Homo sapiens: one gene and its partner. The protein of the gene in region 2 interacts with the protein of the main gene of each other region in a pairwise test. Each region holds a gene or a part of one and is shown on either strand. Other genes may lie near its edges.

The links. The genes of interacting proteins can lie anywhere in the genome.
Region 1: the proteins of PMP22 (region 2) and SPACA1 interact in binary tests that used the Homo sapiens proteins (3 or more experiments, as listed by UniProt).

Annotation. Positions count from the first base shown.
Region 1 is NC_000006.12:88,057,836-88,064,862, forward strand, and holds part of SPACA1 (sperm acrosome membrane-associated protein 1 precursor), read left to right. Parts: intron 1-880; coding exon 881-987; intron 988-1,617; coding exon 1,618-1,753; intron 1,754-6,244; coding exon of another isoform or gene 6,245-6,263; coding exon 6,264-6,384; intron 6,385-7,027. UniProt on the Homo sapiens protein: Plays a role in acrosome formation and establishment of normal sperm morphology during spermatogenesis. Important for male fertility.
Region 2 is NC_000017.11:15,255,300-15,262,326, reverse strand, and holds part of PMP22 (peripheral myelin protein 22), read left to right. Parts: intron 1-1,191; exon of another isoform or gene 1,192-1,368; intron 1,369-1,506; exon of another isoform or gene 1,507-1,565; 5' UTR 1,566-1,599; coding exon 1,600-1,677; intron 1,678-3,133; coding exon 3,134-3,233; intron 3,234-7,027. UniProt on the Homo sapiens protein: Might be involved in growth regulation, and in myelinization in the peripheral nervous system.

The DNA of each region.
Region 1 (7,027 bases), on a different chromosome or scaffold from region 2:
TAAAATTTTAAATTCCACTTCTTCAAACAGTTATAGTTCTGAGCAACTTTCTGATTTTGCTTCACATTTTTTCAGAGACATCTAAAATTGAACATATATTCTCTATAATACACTGGAGGCTTACTGTATATAGGGTCTATAGTTGAGGCTGTCCTGTGGCGAAATGCTTTTGATGCTTTGGTCATGTCATTTTGTCAGTAGATTGGTAGACTTTAAAATGGGAACTTTGACAGCTGTTCCATATCACATTATGCTGTTCTGAAATTTCAGTATCTCTAATGGGAGTCCCTAACCAGTACATTGGAAGCCACTAATAGATCTCATAGTTTAGTCTAACAGATCAGTAGGTCAATTACAACTTATTCTGCATAAGGAGCAGAGAGCCATGGTGTCTCCTCACCTGCTTCTTTTGGTGACTTTATCTTTGCACCTATCAGTCTTCTGTTCCTCTACACTCAAACTCCTAATTATGTTTGATAACTTCCAGCATATAGTTGATTTTTAAAACTGGAGGTTGCTTTTTAAAGTAGTATTGTGACACCTGTAATCTTAGCACTTTGGGAGGCCGAGGCAGGAGGATCACTTGAGCTCAGGAGTTTGAGACCAGGCTGGGCAACATGGTGAAACCTCCATCTCTACAAAATTTTGTTTTAATTAGCCAGGCACAGTGGCATGTGCATGTAGTCCCAGCCACTTGAGAGGCTGAGGTGGGAGGATGGCTTGAGCCCAGGAGGCAGAGATTGCAGTGAGCCAAGATCATGCCACTCTACTCCAGCCTGGGTGACAGAACCAGATCCTGTCTCAGGAAAAAAAAAAGTAATTTCGTGTATAAAGCAATTTATAATGCCCAATGGTATTTATGTGCTTAATTTTTTTTCAGGGGGTAAACCAATTTCAGAAAGTCTTGAAAGTGTTAGATTGGCATGTATTCACACATCTCCCTTAAATCGTTTCAAATATATGTGGAAACTTCTAAGACAAGACCAAGTGAGTAATGAATGGATATAACCTGGTGCTTTCTAGTGAGTGATAAAATTTGTTTCTCAGTTCTGATGGCTTTCAGAAAACTTTCTTTTTAAAAGCAGTTTGCCAAAACGAAGTTAAGAATTATACAACTTTATTATTTTGGAATTTTAAAATTTTCATTATTTACTAGGACTAAACTTTACATAAGTCTAAGGGCCAGCTATAATCAGAACTTTAAAACGTCTATTTTACACAAAGTATTCCATTTCGGAAGGAAGGTTTTCATTGGCTTATATAGGAGTTGTATAATGATAGCAGTGGCTAACATTAATTAAGGGTTTATTAAGTGCCAGACATGACACTGAGTGCTAGAGCCTTTTTTCATCCATATAACAATTCTCTGAGGTAATCACTATCATTAAACCCATTTTTACAAGTAAGTAACTAACTTGTCCACAGTCACACAGGCAGGAAGTGGTAGGGTTGGGATTTGAAGTCTGGATTGTGTGACTGAAAATCCATGTAGATCATTAATTACTCAACTAGGCTAAGAGAGACAGTAACCCTCCTTTCCTTAAGGGAAATAAATTGTTTCCTGGTAAGTGTACATGAAAAATGTTGATACTTTGTTATTTTTTTCTTTTTAAATAGCAATCCATTATACTTGTAAATGATTCAGCAATCCTAGAAGTACGCAAGGAAAGTCACCCCTTGGCTTTCGAGTGTGACACACTGGATAATAATGAAATAGTAGCAACTATTAAATTCACAGTCTATACGAGCAGTGGTAAGTGTCCAGCAATGTCTTGGTTTGCTTATATGCCAATCTTTAAAGAGCATTAAAATCACTTAGAGGCTTGTTAAAACACCAGTCTCTAGCCCTCCCCCCAGAGTTTCTGATTCAGTAGATTTGGGATGGGACTGGAACAAGAATTTCCATTTCTAACAAGTTGCCCTGTTGCTGCTGGTCCAGAGACCACACTTTGAGAACCACTGGTTTACATCATTTAGACTTTTCTAAAAGATACTACTTAATTTCTTTTTCACAAAGTAGTCACAATTTCCTCACTTTGGGAAACTGGTGTATTTCTTAAGTGTTTTCAGAGAACAGTCCTCTAACTTGAATTATATTCTTGCTTTTACTTTCATTATAAAAGTGAAAATGGATAAATGGAATTCTCATGGATGCTTATGAAAATTTTCATTCAGTAAAGTAAATAAAATTAAGAAATACGATGTCAAAGTATGACTCTTTAAAAATTATATATTTGAAACAAATGTTTTTTGATGAAGCACTAATACAGTTCTCAAAAATGTATATATCACAAAATGCAAATGTTGTCCTGAATGTCATTTTATGTATTAGAAACCATATTTTCCTTGTGAGATAGATCCATTTGCCTATATTCAGTTTAATCTATGATGGCTTACATATCCAGGTAATTATTTCCTTTTGTTCAGCTGCTCTTAACTGTTCTAATTGTTGTTATCAAATTTGTTGTTAGGGATGTGGGGACTTGGTCACAAGTTCTTTTCAGAATCCTATCAAGGCTCAGGATCCTTTTTCCAGAAAAATGTCCACATACACAAATATGCCAAAAGTTGCATGTAACTTTAAAGGAGTTTTTGGACTTCTTGAAGCTATTTCTGAACACAAAGAGCTTCTGCTGTAGTTTAAAGATACCGCACAACGTAACCATTTTATTGAAATGAAAACAGGTTAAAATATTTTAGGGTGATTTTAAAAAATAAACTACTATTTAAACTTCCTTTGATATGCTGTTTAATGAGTTTAGAAACATCTTCATGGTGAAAGCTAATAATCTTATTCCTCTATTGGGATATCAGGTGTCGTTAAAAGGATCATTTTCAATAAAGCTCTAAAAAAGGCAAGAGAATAAAAACATCATTAAACTAAAAAATATCTCAACTAGCCCTCGTTCATGATATTAAAGGTGTGTGGAGCCATTCTCAGTCTTTGTCCTACTATCTCGTCCCTGTTAGGACAATTCAGTGTGGTTAACTCCTCTCATAATTAGAAGGGAGCATGCATTTGGTAATGTATATGTTAAAGGCTGGAGCACAGACCCTAAAATGTCAGGCCTTTATTGAGACAAAGTTAACTTCTCTCTCTCATAGCAGCAGTCCAGGAATGGTGGGATAGCTCTGCCATCTCAGTACGTGCACTGATTGAATGACAAAATATTTTAAAAACACTCCAGTATCTACTAATTTCTTTAAACATGACAATTGGGTACACCACTGCAACAGACCCCTTTGGCTGATTAGAAATCAAACAAATGTTTTGGCTAGAAATGTCTACACAATATGGTACTAGCATGAAACAAATATGTAATTGAGATATTTTTAGGGTAAATATGGTTTCCCTAGTGAAAAATTCTCATCCATTCACTTAAATATCAGATTTTTCACTCCCACAATAGTTGTCTTTCATAATTAGGCATTGTTAAAAAAGATACTTTGAAGTACTCAGAATGTGACTCTATTTGGAAATAGGACTTTTTACAGATGTAATTAGTTAAGATGAGGTTGTACTAGAGCAGAGTGGGCCTTTAATCCAATATAACTGGTGCCCTCATAAGAAGAGGAATATTTGGGCATGCTTGTGCGCACACACACACACACACACACACACACAAACACAGATGGAAAGTGGGGCGCGGAATGCCAGGTGAAGACACAGAGAAACAGACATAGGGAGAAGACAGCCATGTGAAAATGGAGACAAAAATTGGAGTTATGCTACCAGAATCCAAGGAATTTCTGAGCCTACCAGAAGCTGAGAAGCTGTAAGAGACAAGGAAGGATCCTCCCCAAGAACCTTCAGTGAGAGCATGGCTCGGCCAACACATTGTTTTCAGACTTCTAGCCTCCAAAACTGCGAGACAATACATTTCTGTTGTTTTCGTCACCCAGTTTGTGGTACTTTGTTATGGTGGTCCTAGGAAACTAATAAGTACATAAGCTTAGTTTATCTAAAAGGTGAGAGCATCAAATTTAGCCTATTTTTCATTAAATACTTCAATAGGAAATTGAGCCTATTTTTTTCATTACCTGTAAAAATAGTCTAGGTGACCCTTGCAAGACTACTGTTGTAATAAATAAAATCTTCATGCCCCTCACTCTCCACCCTCTCTCAGCTAACATTGCAGAGTAATGGATAAATGAAATTTGCATTTCTCCTTGTCAGGTGTCAGTTCTGAAAGGTGTTTTTTATTTAAGTTTCCAAAATGCCACCACTTGTGTAAATCTAAAGTTATTTTGAAATAAAAAGATTTTTAAAAATCCAACAATGTTGGAACGTAAATATAGATGTATTTTCTCTAGCATACTTGGAACTATTTAGCGAGATCCCTAACTTGAGTTTATAGCTCTAGAATTACTAGGCAAAATGGAAACTTATACTCCATGATGTCTAACAGATAGGGAAACAAATCCAGAAAAATAAGCAGTTGAGATTGCTCATATAGAAGACTAGTTCTGACAGAGTAGTACTTATCAAAATCAAAGTATTTAAATAGTCAAAATATACCTTGTACAAATTAAACCTCCCTGGGCCTTGGTTTACTTATCTGTATAATGCAATAGTTGGATCAGATGATCTCTGTAGTTCTTTCTTCCATGAATCTTTTATGATTCCAGAATTTGGGGTCATAAAAGAGATACAATAAAGCTATGTAATTCACAAAGTAAGTAATATTCTATGTTAATTGGCTTTTTACTAGTTTACAATGTAGCAATACTGTAATACATACGGTAGATTGGCTTTGTCTCTTTGATAACCTTATTTGCTGAAAGAGCAGAGAGACATGGGAGAGAATGCTTGAGGTAAGAGTGGTGCATGAGGTGGGTACAGTGGTGTGTGCCTATAATACTAGCTACTAGGGAGGCTGAGGTGGGAAGATCACTTGAGCCCAGGAGTTCAAGGCCAGCCTGGGCAATATAGCAAGACCCCATTTCCTAAAGAGAGAGGGGTCGGGGTATGTGGATATGTGTATAGAAAACAATGAGCTTCAATTCCTTTCTTACAGCAAATATAAAAATTAGAGAGGTATCATAGTCTTAAGTGTAAAAGCTAAACCCATAAAGTTTTAGGAAAGAAATATAGGAGACTATTTGCATGATTCAGGAGTAGGCAAACGTTTCTTAGACATAATTCAGAAAACAATCACCATAAAAGGAAACATTGAATAAATCAGACTGCATCAAAATTAAAAACTTCAGCTCATTAACAAAAATCATTAGGATAATGAATAGGCAAGCCAAAATCTGGTAGAAAACATTTATAAAACCTGTACAGTCAGTACAATCAGTTTGAGAAAGTTCTCATGGTTTCTTAGACAGCTAAACACACATCTGTCTACCCTACGACCCAGCAATTCTATTATTAGACATTTAGCCAAAAATTAAGATATATATTCACAAAATGACTTGTATAAGAATGTTCATGGCAGCTTTATTTATAGTATCTCACAACTGGAACAGCCTAGATATCCATCAGTAGGAGGATGAGTAAACAAATTGTGGAGTATACCTAGTAATAATAAAAAAATGATAGTTGCATATAACAGTATGGGTGAATTTCTAAAACATTATTCTAAGTAAACAAATCTTTACACAAGAGATTACCTAGTGTGTGTTTCAATTTATATGTAGTTCTAGAATAGTCAGAGCTAATCTATGGTGGAAAAGAAAATCAGGATGCTTGTTGCCTCTGGAGGATGAGGAAGGAGTTAATTAGGAAGAGGCTCAAGGGAACTTTCTGGGGTATAGTAATATTCTATATCTTGACTAACATTTAGTTACATATATGAGTTTGCCTTTGTCAAAACTAAGCAAATGTACATTTAAGATCTTTGTGCAATTCTTTGTGTGAAAATTTTATTTCAAAGAAAAAACTAATATTAAACTCCAGTTAACGATATGCTTGCTGAAAAATTTTTGAGGAAGTGTACTGACATTTGCAAATTATATTGAAATGCATAAAAATAAGATGGATTAATGAATTGATAGAGGAATGGATAGATGAATTTTAAAATATTAATGGTAGTATTTAGATGGTGGTAATACAGGCTGTTCGTTGTCAAATTCTTTTAACTTTTTTCATGTTTGAAAAGGACATTTCAAACATGCAGAGCAAGATCATTAATAATTTTCTCTGCACTAAGCATTTCTTTATGTTTCTAGAGTTGTTTTTCAAATATAAACTTTTAAGTTAGATATTCATTTCCTTTTCCTCAGTAGTAATACTCCTTAGGTTTGTGTGTTTTCTCTAGAATTGCAGATGAGAAGATCAAGCCTACCAGCCACTGATGCAGCCCTAATTTTTGTGCTGACCATAGGAGTCATTATCTGTGTATTTATAATTTTCTTATTGATCTTCATAATCATAAATTGGTAGGTGAATAGTGGAATGCATCATCACCCTTGATTGACATCCTCTTCTTCCCCCTCCTCATCCAGTGAATTGCAAAGCCCTGTCCGTGATGTCTCCTACATGTTGCCTTGAAACTGTCCATCGCCTTTCATTACTCCTGTGACTGCCCTAGTTCAGGCTGCCCCGTCTCTTTATGTAGATGCTTTTTAAAACAATCTCATGACTTGCTTCTCCAACTATGAGAGAGCTTTTAAATGCAACTTTTACAATTTTACACGGTAATTGCTTTAAAAAGTTTTATTTAATGAATATTTGTGTTGTCCAGTTGTGGTTCTCTCAACTCTAAAACTTGGTTATTGTAACCTACTAATTCATTTGTATGACAATATTTATAATACCTACATGAGTAGTACACCCTGGTAAGTCTGAGGGCTCATATACTATCGATTTGTAGCTGATGCATCGCAAACTAAAAATGAATAATGAATACAAAGGCACTTCTTAGAGAAGAGGTAATATATATGTTTTATATATATGTACATATATATGTACATATATTGTATATACAATATACATATATCTTCTATGTACATATAATGTATATACAATATACATATATCATATATAGGTCATATGTGTGTACCAAATATGTATGTAGTATAT
Region 2 (7,027 bases):
CTCCCTGGGGCTTCTGTTTAGGGGCACAGGGTCCCCTGTGTGTCCTGTTTCCCTCCAATGGGTCTTGGAGTAATACAACGAGGAGAGCCTTTATGGTCTATAAGACCTTACAGGGCAAGGGTGATGGTGCTGGTGTCTGGATAGCGGATAAGGGCGGCCCAGTTCTCGCCTTGCTGAAGAGGCGTTGACTCTGGGACACACTGGCAAAACAGTCCCTGTGGCGGACATCCCGAGAGTGTTGGACTCCTGTGGTTCCCCAGTTCCCAGCCTCCTGCCATCGGCTTAATTCAAACCCTCTGGGAGTCATCAGAAATCCTTGTTTATTTCTTCCAGTGCATTCCAGAGTTTCTTTGAATGTGATGCTTGTGGAGAGGAACAGAGGGGCCTGGGATTGGGTACTTTCCAAACTGGGTTATTGAAACGTTGTCTCCCTGGCCCAAGACTCTGCCTAAAATGGTCCCCAGAGTCTCAGCCAGATCTTTCACAGCCATGCATGTCCTCTAACAGGTCATCCCAGCCTTCAGTTCCCCCAAAGTTTAAAATGAGGGGCGAGGACCGCATTACTTGGGATAAATGTCCTGCCGGCTCTGACCGGCTGAAATTCTCGGACTCAGCCTTTTACCCTCTGTCTCTCTCTCCCGTCCGCTGGACATCTACTCCCTTCGGTCCAGGCTCCTGGGCTCCTGTCCCACCGCACCCAGACCGGAGCTCAGGCTTGTTGGGGTTCGTGTCCTGGCTTTGAGTGCCTGGGGTGCAGACTGGACCCCTAGGCGAGCACGTGGGTCTAGCGCAAGAGCAGAATGCCCCCTGACCCCAGGGGCTGCCTGGGGAAGCGCGCGGTGGACGGGAAGCGCAGGGTCCGGGCAACCCTCTCGAGCCATTCTTTTCTTTCCACACTACTCTGGCTCTGCACCACCTCTCCGGAGCCGCCAGAGTCTGCGCGAGGCTGAGCTGGGGCCAGGACCGTTCCTCTACGCTGGCAGAGTTGGGTGGAAACTTGGAGACAAACGGAATGCGGAGAGCACTGGGGTCTGGGAAACCAGCCTCCTCGCCGCTGTCTCCCCCACCGCATGCCACGGCTGTCTCCAGGTCTCAGACGGAAATCTGGGCACCTACTCCCCTCACCCCTACCTCCACCCCATAGGGGAATTCACCATCTGAACCGGGGTCTCGGAGAACGTGACCTCTCACCTTCCAGGGAGGTCGCCGGGAGGTGCTTGGGGTGGGTGGAAGCGTGCAGTGGCCTCTGCTCATATTTTCTGGAAACCCCTCCGTTCCCTGGGTGGTTTTAGACGTGCGAACCGCTTGTTTTGTTTCCAAAAGCAAAAGATGTTCCGTTGCAGGCGGGCCCGGCTGGGCGCTGGGCACTGGGCGCTGGTCCTGCAGGCGGCTGCTGCCCCCTCTCGGCGGCAGGCGGCGCGAAGGCTCCTGACCCGCGCGGGCGGTCGGGCTGCGGGCGCTGGGCCAGGCCGGGCCTTCCGCTAGTGCGCGGGACCCTCCCTCTGCGCGCGCCTCCGTCGCTCGGCCCAGTGCGTTCGGCCTCACGCCCAGCGCTCTCCTCGCAGGCAGAAACTCCGCTGAGCAGAACTTGCCGCCAGAATGCTCCTCCTGTTGCTGAGTATCATCGTCCTCCACGTCGCGGTGCTGGTGCTGCTGTTCGTCTCCACGATCGTCAGCGTGAGTGCCTGGCGGGGAGGCTCCCTGCGCGGCCCGCCCTTCCCCATCTGGGTTCCCAGCCCGTGCTCCTGCTGGTTCAGGACTGTGTTATTTGCAGACAGTTGGAAGTCTCAGACGTCCCAGGGAAGTTTCTGGCAATCTGCCCCCTTCCAGTTGCTTTGAGAAAACGAGAGCAGATTCAGTGATAGGAACCAAGCGAGCGCTGGGCTGGGTTAGCTGCGCAGGTCTCTATTTAAGCCAAGTAACTTCAGAGCCGATCTAGGGTCCCCGACCTTCATTTGACAAGATTGTTTAACTTTTTTTTTTCTTGATGCAGCCTCGTTGAAGAAGAGGAGTATTTATGATTTTTTTTTCTCCAAACCATAGTCAGATGGGTGAATTAATTTATAAAACACCCTTTTAGGACTTGAAATTGGAAAGTTAAAATGGGCTTTTCTGGAAAAGAGTTCACAGGTCCCATGTCGGCTTTATGGCATGAACACAACACATTGTTAGTAAAGCTTCCACTGGTAGGAACAGGCCATCAGAGTAACTTCTGTTACAAAACTGTCCAGCCCATTAGATCTTAAAGTTATTTTCTTGGCGATGAAGATGAGCAGACATTCAGGCAGTTTTCCAGTGGTGGCTTTCACTTCTTAATTTAAGGCACATTGTAAGCATGATTTTCTTTTTCGTTTTCTTTTCTTTTCTTTTCTTTTTTTTTTTTTTTTTGAGATGGAGTCTCCAGCCTGTCACCCGGGCTGGAGTGCAGTGCCATGATCTTGGCTTACTGCAACCTCTGCCTTCCGGGTTCAAGCCATTCTCCTGCCTCAGCCTGGGATTACAGGTGCCCGCCACCACGCCTGGCTAATTTTTTTTTTTTTTGTATTTTTAGTAGAGACGGGGTTTCACTATGTTGGCCAGGCTTGTCTCAAACTCCTGACCTCATGATCCGCCCACCTCTGCCTCCCAAAGTGCTGGGATTACAGGTGTGAGCCACCGTGCCCGGCCTGTAAGCATGATTTTCTAGTCTCTGTGAGAAATAATTATGTTGGGGATTTGTGACTTAGTTTAACATTTACAAGCATCTTCACAGTATCTCCATTGTGCCTGGTGATGATGATATCAGACTGATAGGAGCTATAAACAAGGAAATAGACTGAGAGAGGCGGGCTTGGGGAATGATCCCGAGATGCTGGGAGGAGAGAAGGCTTGAATGCAGGTGTCTAAGGTTGAGTTCATGGCTCCTTCTACTATAGTAAACATCTCTGCACATAATCGTTTCTGTGTGCATGTGGAACTTCTCCATTTACAAGGTGCTTTTAAGTCATAAAACGTTGGCTCTTACCATGCAGGGGTGGGCGGTGTGGCTAGGTGGATGCGGGTGCTTTTCGCCATCCCTGGGCCTTTCTCCTTCCCCTTTTCCTTCACTCCTCCCTCCCTCCCTGACTCAGGATATCTATCTGATTCTCTCTAGCAATGGATCGTGGGCAATGGACACGCAACTGATCTCTGGCAGAACTGTAGCACCTCTTCCTCAGGAAATGTCCACCACTGTTTCTCATCATCACCAAACGGTGAGGCTGGTTTTGTGCTCCATGAGCTTGTCCTCAGACGCCTGTAACACGTTTCTCAGCCCAGAGCTGGAAACGCTTATTGGAAGACACAAGCCAGAATGTCGTTGCTGGGGTGGGGTGGGATGTGACAGGGAGCCATGAGTCCAGGGAAAATGGGAGGGGTGGTGATCTCGCTGGGGAAGCTGAGATCCTGGGCATCATTGTGATTCACTCTACCTAGAGACATGCCCTTAGTGCCCTCCTGATCACTTAGGATAATGCTTTTTGTGATTGAAAAAAATATCGACCTGGGAGCTGTGAAGGTGGTATGATAGCTAAGCCTTTGGCAGACCCCCTTGGGACATTGGATCAAACGTGTATCTTTGGTTTGGTGGCTGTCTCTATTCAGAAATGTCCTGCCCCTTTCTGCTGCAGTGACAGTGGGGCTAGCTCACTGCACCGTCAGTTACATGGACACAAGACTGGCTGCCTTTCCAGGTCTTGGGCCTCAGTGATGCCACCTAGCATCAAAACCTTTGAATGTTTCCTTGTTGCAAGATGGGGACTTGAAGCTATTTGCAAAACCCTAAGCTAAGCCTTGGGGTCCTTAATCCAGAAGATCGTATTTCTCCTCTGTCCTCAGCATCTTTGCTTGTGAGATATGGAAGCCAGGCTTCATGAGGGTCAAATTAAGGGATAATTGGCAGCAGAAGCACCAACTAGGTACCCAAGGCACCCAGAGGGAAAGGAACACCCAGCCAGGAGCCCTGTGTGTTTGGATGCAGACAGGTGGAGGTAAACAGGATGAGCTGTTTTGGTGGCTGGGTAGGCCATAGCGATTGATGTTAAGAGCCCGTGGACCTGGATCCACATGATCTTTTGTTCCAGAAGATGTGTCCTCAGGCTGGAAGGACCTAGAGATACAGCAGAGCTTTCCTAACATCCTGGGTTTAAAAGGCCACGGAAATACAGCTTTAAATGTTGCTGGAGCTACTCATAGATCCAGTATATATGTTCAAGATGCTACACCAGACGAGAGAAACCAGTTTAGATCCAGTTCAGTAAAACAGGCAGTGAAGTGGCCTTTGGTCCTGGCTTTGCATAATCCAGTTGCTTTGCTGGACTTTCCCTCTTACAGCTCAGTACCCAGTAATACCCAAGCATGTCCCCAGCTGAAGCATTATAAACCAAATTCCTTGAACCACAGTACAAATAGAAACTGCTAAAATAATAATTTGGTAATTTACATGGAGAAGATACGCAAGGAGTAGAAAACCCTGCTTTATGTTTTTACCTTCTGGGTTGGGGAGGGAGCAGAGAAAAGGTCCCAGTCCTATTGGAGTGAGAACAGTGCTTAATCTTGTCTCTGAGTGTGTGAAAGGCATTGAATTAAAGCCATCCCAGAAATTACGTGGTGGGTTTGCATGGTGAGTTGGCAACTGAGTAAATGAAATACTCATGAGTGCCTGAGAATGTGACCGTAGCACTGCTTGTCCCCAAAGCCACAGCATCCGGTTTCTCCCCCTTTAGGGTCTGGCTGAAGTTCCCGGAGCACTCCGGATGGGAGTCTCCGTACTCGCTACTGACACCTGGTGGTTACAAGTAGTGACTCAGCCCGAAAAGGGCAGGCTTTGGTGCTCACAGGCGCCATCCCCAAGTGGCATCTGGCCACGCGGCTTGGCACAGAATCCTGGACTCTTGGGCCCGGAAGGGGGCAGTTTTGGCAGGCGTGTTAAAACCCGGCGAAGTTTCAGCAGAAACGAGGCGGCAGAGGAGTTGCTAAGTTGTGCTTAAACCATCTGCAGGAAAGAAAGCAATATTGACCTGTAGCATGTTACAGATTGACATTTGGTGTCTTCTGCCGTTGGAAATAGCTGTCAGTTGGTGCTAGAAGCAGATCTCAAAGAGGCACTAGGGTTATTTTAATCAGGAAACTTCTTATCTCTCAACTTGTTCCTTCTGTGCCAAGCTCATGTTCTTGAGTTCATTTACAATGCCTCCTTAGTGTGGGTTTCAAATCTGCCTCGTTGCTTTCCGTGAGGACCCCAGAGTGTCTGTTTTCCACATCTCCCTTCTCAGCTCTCACAATCAGGGCATTTTGAAAACATCTGGACACTGCACCTGAACATGCTGGGTTTGTTTTCACGCCACTCAGGCTTAATCTAAATTTGAAATTTCCATTTACACTTCCCCAGTAGTGGTTATCTCTGCCGCTATCTTCCCCAACGTGGCAGCACTTGCTACGACTTCAGCCTTAAGTGGCGAATCCTCCAGGGCCTCTTTGATTGAGTTTAACAATTGTGGCTGCAGACAATAAGCTGAAAAAAATGTGTACTTTTTAAAACATTATACTGTCTTTACAAATGAACTATGCTCATTGCGAACCATTTAACTTGTCTGTATTTGCTCTTAGAAAGTATATTTGAAAAAAAATACTTGTTAAGTAATCAAAAGTAATTTGTTATTGACATCGATTTGTGAAGAATATGTTGCAAGTGTGAAAAAATAAATAGTGGTGCAATCTCGGCTGACTACAACCTCCACCTCCTGGGTTCAAGCGATTTTCCTGCCTCAGCCTCCCGAGTAGCTGGGATTATAGGCGCCCAACACCACGCCTGGCTAATTTTTGTATTTTTAGTAGAGAGGGGTTTCATCATGTTGGGCAGGCTGGTCTCGAACTCCTGACCTCAGGAGATCCACCCACCTCACCTCCCAAAGTGCTGGGATTAGAGGTGTGAGCCACTGCGCCATGTGACTTGGTATTTTTTTCTGAAAGGACTCATTTTTCTGGTGCATGACCATGACACTTCACCTCTCTCTGGGGGTTGCCACTCATGTTGTTTTCTACATGAATGGGGCCTCCTGGCATCGTGCCATGAGGCAGTCTAACATCTAGGTTGTGTAGTTTGAAAGAGACACACCAGATCTTGCCCCCAGGCTACATCTTAATATTAGAAATAGTTTTAGATTTTTAACTAACTGACTTTGACTCCGCCTGCCTTCTCGTTTTTCTAAATGTGTTTGTATACTTTCTGGCACCCCCTCCTTATCTGCCTCGTGTGGGCAGAGGTAAGAGAGGCTTAGTGTGGGGATATTCGTTATGATATTGTATCCAGTGCCTCTCCGGCCCAGGGAATACAAGGATCTGGAATGCATGGGCCTTGCCTTGATGGTCCCGAGCCTGGTCGAAGAGTCAGGAGATAGATATGGAAGGGTGAATCACTCCCTTGGAAGGCAGAGCAGGCCAGGTGCCCAAAGGGAGGCAGGCAGACAGCGTCTGAGTTCAGGGAGGAAGCGGATGGGAAATCTCTGGTGGGAGGTAGAATCTGATCCATCCTCCAAAGGATGGGCAGGATTTAAGTCAATACAGGCAACGGGGAGGAGAATATTCCCTGTGACCTAAGGTAAGGGTAGAACAAGGCAGGGGATGGGGTAGACTGGTTGGCTAGTGTTCTGGTTAGGATTAGGATTGATTGTGTATAAGAGAACATCTTCAAATGATAGGGGCTTAAGTAAGATCATTTATTTTTCTCTCTTTTCAAAGAAGTCTGGAAGTAGGTAGCCTGAGAGAGGTATGGAGGTTCCATGAAATTGTCAGAGATGCAGACACTTTCTAGCTCATTTCTTTGCCATCTCTTGGGTTTGGCTGTCATCTTCAGGAAACAAAAGGCTGCTAGAGCTCCAGCCATCTCATCCATGATTCAAGCAGTAGGGTGGAGAAAGGAGGTGGGGAAGAATGAATCTCCTTTTCTTTTAATGAAATGTGACATGGTCACACCTACACCTATTTACAAGAGAGGCTGAGAAATATAGTC